Linked DNA regions of Homo sapiens: region 2 is linked to region 1. Evidence: fine-mapped expression QTL. A gene starts in region 1. The other region holds a variant in brackets. All regions are shown on one strand. Distances are from middle to middle.

Region 1 (2,500 bases):
TGATCCATGCAAAAAGATGTAAAATCTTCCGCTTAAGGAATCTAAAATTCTAAACGTTATTTGTGGGGTGGTTAATCTGCACCTCTCAGAAACAGACATGTCTTGTGCGCTGCCAACAATTTTACCTTTGGGTGAATGATGTAACTTTACTGTTCCCACAAAGAGTCTTAATTTTTCTGTACCTTGCAATAAAATCTACATGCATTAGATTTTTCCACGAATGGCCTACAATTTGATAAACACTTTCAGGACTAAACGGCTAGCAAAAATATTCGTTAAAGTCGTTATGCAGCATTTTAATTCCCTTCACTGATAACATGCACCCTGAGTATGGCTTCAAAGACCCACTCCTACGCGAGAAACGACCCGAAATGCTCTATATGCCTTCCTTTTAAGGGGCGGGGGGATCCTTTGATGTAACTCAACAAAAGCATACAGCAATTTCGTCACGTCACAAACATCTGAACTCGTTTACCGAAATCTAATCTGAGGCGTTTATCAGAAGCAAAGAAAAAATAAAATACGGCCCACGGAGGCCTAAGGAGTGAGGCATCCACCATTAATGACTCTACCGGGAAGCAGATATGGCCTTACGTTATTTCGCTAAAAATCCCAAGGCCAACCCTGCCAAAGAATCAACAACCCATTTTACAAACGAAATACCAGATTCAGAAAGACTAAGCAGGTTGCCAAGCTGGAGAGCTGGATCTGCCGACCTCTCTCCACCCCCCCCCGCCCCCCCCCGGAGCCTCAGGCCAACGGAATTAACGTTCCGCGTCCCCTCCCTCGCCTCCCGCAACGCCCGCGAGGGTCGGCTCCCGGGGCGCTGACAACCGCCTCGTGGCCCTCGGCCGGCCTCTGAAGAGGGCAGTGAGGGGCCCCCACCTGGGCGCCCGATGCCCAGAGCACTCTGCGCCCCCAGCCTGCCCCAGCCCAGTCCCTCCCGGCCGCGCGCCCTGACCGGTGAGCAGGATGTTCGGAAGCAACATGGTCCCCGCCGCGACGGCTTCGGGCGCCTCGCTCACGTGCCCTTTGCTCTACAGGGAGGAGCCGGAAGGGGCGGGCGGCAGCAAAAGCCCACGGCCCCAAAGGCCCCGAAGCCCACCGCGGCGCCCCTAGCCTGCCCCGGCGGCCCAGCCGCGGCCCACTGGTTACCTGGCTTTCGATGACACATTTCCGTCGCAAAGTTGGAGGGTGGGCATAACTCGGGTCGGTACTTCGGGTCAGGCAGTGCGCTGGATGCCTAAGTCACACACTCCTTCGGTGGTCCCCGCCCTTCGCTTGCGCCGACCAGTCTGGAAGGTCCCCGGGAGGCCGTACCTCCGAGAGGCTCGGCGTTGAGCCCGGGTAGGGCCAGGTGGCTGCCCTTTCACCTAGGGTAGTCCCTGGTCGCCTCCGCTCTTCGCCTAAAAGGGGATGCAGCTCCGGGAAAGTAAGGCCGCCGCGGTTGCGGCTATATTATGTATATGTCTTAGAGACGTGAGTCTATCTCTGCCTTCAAGCTTTCCTGGGCTCTCGTCGCTCCTCCTCCCGACCCGCCCATCCCATCTGGGGATGAGAAGATTGAGGGTGCAGAGCCCTGTCCTGCAGCGGGGATTTGCGAGCTCAACCCGGCACCCCACTGATTACAGGATTACGTTGGACGAATATTTGAGCTTAGTATTCCCTGTTCACTGTGTGGGGTGGTGGTGGGTCGGCTAGGAATAGTCTTGAAGGTCTACCTCTGACATCTCATTTCAGTAACCTCGCATCTTCAGGGACAGTTATCTGCTTTTTAAAGGAGGTAATTGTCAATCTTGTTTTCAAGAGTGAATAGAGACCTGACCGTGACAACAGTCTGCACCTTTTTTTGTTTGTTTGTTTGTTTTTGTTTTGTTTTGAGACGGAGTCTCACTCTTGTCGCCCAGGCTGGAGTGCAACCTCCGCCTCCTGGGTTCAAGTGATTCTCCTGCCTTAGCCTCCAGAGTAGCTGGGATTACAGGCGCCCACCACCACGCCCGGCTAATTTTTGCATTTTTAATAGAGACGGGGTTTCACCATGTTTTGGCCAGGCTGGTCTCAAACTCCTGACCTCAGATGATCCGCCCGCCTCGTCCTCCCACGGTGCTGGGATTACAGGCATGAGCCACCGCGTCCGGCCCCTGGTCTGCATCTTTTATTTCGAGCTACAAACTATATTTACTCAAATAGGTGTTTTTTTTCCACCTGTATACCTTTTGAAACGTCACAGTCTCTAATCGTGAACGATTTGGGGCGGAGGGCTGAACAATGTGTTTTCTAGTGTGTCGAGGTGTTTATAGGCTATGTGTGCCTCCAAACTGTAAAGTAGTCCAGTATACTTTCCAATGTATAAGTTTGTAGACCTTAAACTTTTCTTCTGGCTAACTTAAAATCGTTGAATTCACTAGTTTGCATAAACATTTAAGAATTTGAAAACACGGTTGAAAAACAGTGTTACCAAGAAATTTTGTAATAACATGTTCAAATGAAGACAAAAATT
Region 2 (3,022 bases), 180 kb before region 1:
AATCCCTGAGCCAGGGAAGTCAAGACTACAGTGAGCCAAGATCACGCAACTGCACTCCAGCCTGGGTGTGGGAGTGAGACCCTGTCTCAAAAAATAAAATGGTAGATATTCCATGCTTTTTTGGTCTCTAAAAATTTTTCTCTCTGTATGATATAATCGCTCTTTTAGAGATGTTCCCCTGGCCCCCGCCCCCACCCTGCAACAATAGAAAATTATGTCCATGTTTGGTGGCTCATGCCTATAATACCAGCACTTTGGGATGCTGAGGCAGGAGGATTGCTTGAGGCCAGGAGTTCAAGACTGACCTGGGCAACATAGTGAGACCCTGTCTCTAAAAAAATATAAAAAATCGAATCTTAGCACTTTAGGAGGCCTAGTCAGGAGGATTGCTTGAGCCCAGGAATTTGAGACCAGCCTGGGCAACATGGTGAGACCCTGTCTCTATTAGAAAAAATATATATATAATTTAAAAAATTAGCCCGGCAGTCATGGTGGTATGTGCCTGTAGACCTAGCTACTTAGAATGCTGAGGCAGGAGGATCACTAGAGCCCAGGAGTTTGAGGCTATAGTGAGCTATGTTCATGCTACTGCACTCCAAGCTGGGTGACACAGCAAGACCCTGCCTCTTACAAAAAAAAAAAAGAAAAAAAAATCATCCATTCTAGATTTTTAAAGTTATAGTTGTAGAGGACCATGACAAAATTAATCTCTTCTGAATGTACAGTTATATCTTCTTTCTCAGTCCTGATGTTGAGTACTTTTGTTTTCTAATCAGACTTGCCCATGAGATTATTTCATTGGCCTTTTGAAAGAACTAGTTTTTGGTGTTACCATTTCTACCATTTTTATTTTGTGGTTGTAGCTTTTACATTATTCCCACCATCTCCTTTATTTTCTAGTTTAAATATTTTCTATATTTTAGTCATGAAAGTGAGGCAATAGAATAGGGTCTGGAGGCAGGGAACCTAAGGCAGATTCACGCTGACTTCCTAGAACTAAATCAAAAGGAAAACCCCAACTTTCCACACTTAAGTAACAAATGGACCTGAGGGTACTCCCTTTGCAAACCCCCACCCCCCTTTTCCTGTGTGGCAGATGGAAAGTGGAAAGTACTTCTGATTGGCTGCTTTCTACAACCAATCATACTAATTGTGGGACACTACTTTATTTGCATGGGGTGTATACCAAGTGGCCAATGGGAAACCTCTAGAGGGTATTTAAACCCCAGAAAATTCTGTAACCTGGCTCTTGGGACCCTATGCTTGGCCTGCTACCACCCTGTGGAGTGTACTTTTGTTTGTTTGTTTGAGACAGTCTCCCTCTGTTGCCCAGGCTGTAGTGCACTGGCACAATTTCGACTCATTGCAACCTCTGCCTCCCTGGTTCAAGCAATTCTCCTGCCTCAGCCTCCCGAGTAGCTGGGATTACAGGTGTTCACCACCATGCCCAGCTGATTTTCGTATTTTTAGTAGAGAGGGGGTTTCACCATGTTGGCCAGGCTGGTCTCGAACTCCTGACCTCAAGTGATCTGCCAGCCTCGGCCTCCCAAACTGTTGGGATTACAGGCATGAGCCACCGCACCTGGCCAGTCAATATCTTTTTCTTTTTCTTTTCTTTTCTTTTTTTTTTTTTTTTTTTTTTTTGAGATGGTGTCTCTGTCACCCAGGCTGGAGTGCAGT[G/A]GCGCAATCTTGGCTCACTGCAACCTCCACCTCCCAGATTCAAGTGATTCTCCCGCCTCAGCCTCCTGAGTAGCTGGGATTACAGGCGCATGCCACTACGCCTGGCTAATTTTTGTATTTTTAGTAGAGATGCGGTTTCACCATGTTGGTCAGGCTGGTCTCGAACTCCTGACCTCGTGATCTGCCCACCGCGGCCTCCTAAAGTGCTGGGATTAAAGGTGTGAGTCACCGCACCTGGCCAGTCAATATCTTTTGAGATTTTATTTATTTATTTTTTGTCAGCTTGATGTTGGGTGTTTTTTTAAGAATTTTCAATTCTTGCCTCCTCAGAAGAAAGGATTTGACTGAGGGGCATAAGGCAGAAGAAGAAACCCAGGCAAGTTTCAGAGCAGGAGTGAAATTTTATTAAAAAGCCTCAGAACAGTAAGGAAAGGAAGGAAAGTAAAGAAAAGAAGGAAAGGTATGTGCTTTCCTTGGTTGATAAACCAAGTGTGCCTGGTGATTTTTAATGTTACTGAAGATGTGGCATGTTAAAAAGGCATCTTTCTGCTAGCACAGTGGCTCACATCTGTAATCCCATGATTGTTTTTGTTTTAAATCTTGGCCAGGCTGGTCTCGAACTCCTGGGCTCCACAGATCCTCTTGCCTCAGCCTCCCAAAGTGCTGGGATTACTGGCATGAGCCACCACACCAGCGGTGTAATCCCAGTGTTTTGGGAGGCCAGGGTAGGAGGATCAATTGAGGCCAGGAGTTTAAGACCAGCCTGGGCAACAGCGCAAGACACTGTCTCTACAAAAATTAGCCAGGCATGGTGGCCTGTGGTTCAACCTGAGTGAGACCATGACTCTAAAAATCAAAAAAAAAAAAAAAACCCTGCCACAATCCTATCACACTAAGAAAATTGGTAACTTAATATCTAATATGCAGAACATATTCAAATTTCCTCAGTTGTTCCAAAAATGTATTAGGGCTTTTATTTTTTTTCCTTTTCCAATCCAAGATTCAATCATGGTTTGTTTTTCTATATAGAACAACTGCCCTGTTTTCTGTGTTTCAGGACATAGACATGAATTGTCTTGTAGAATGTTCCTCAGTCTGGATTTCTTGTCTCATGTTTTCAGCACAGTTAAGTTCAGGTTACACATTTGGCAATATAGGTGATGTGTACAACTCATGCATTATATTAGAATCAGACATCAGATTGTTATACCATTTTTGATACCAATTTTGACCATCTGGTTAAGGTGGTAACCACTAGCTATAACATTCCTCTGAAGTGCTGGTCTCTAGTTTTAGCACTCATTAATTATACTTTCCTGACATTTATCTCCCTGGGAGTGGT

Alleles and levels. Alleles are on the strand shown, and positions count from the first base shown. SD is a standard deviation of normalised expression in the study named.
In carriers of allele G in region 2, the expression in testis of the gene that starts at base 1,019 in region 1 tends to be higher than with A alone (moderate effect, 0.67 SD a copy in GTEx).

The links. PIP is the estimated chance that this variant, and not a neighbour inherited with it, causes the effect.
Region 2: its variant is the best candidate, but not a certain one, in a credible set for the expression of AK6 in testis (GTEx, PIP 0.51).

Annotation. Positions count from the first base shown.
Region 1 is chr5:69,368,502-69,371,001 of GRCh38, forward strand. AK6 (adenylate kinase 6) reads right to left here and starts at 1,019. Exons shown (of 5, transcript NM_016283.5): 1 at 962-1,019. The coding sequence starts at 989. TAF9 (TATA-box binding protein associated factor 9) reads right to left here and starts at 1,019. Exons shown (of 3, transcript NM_003187.5): 1 at 962-1,019. RAD17 (RAD17 checkpoint clamp loader component) reads left to right here and starts at 1,317. Exons shown (of 19, transcript NM_133338.3): 1 at 1,317-1,432. RefSeq lists an enhancer at 1,571-2,120.
Region 2 is chr5:69,183,731-69,186,752 of GRCh38, forward strand. The region is part of intron 1 of LOC112267932 (a long non-coding RNA gene); the gene reads right to left. Among named protein-coding and RNA genes, the nearest start is that of CENPH, 4.3 kb to the right of the region's middle. The variant G/A (reference allele first, on the strand shown) is at 1,681.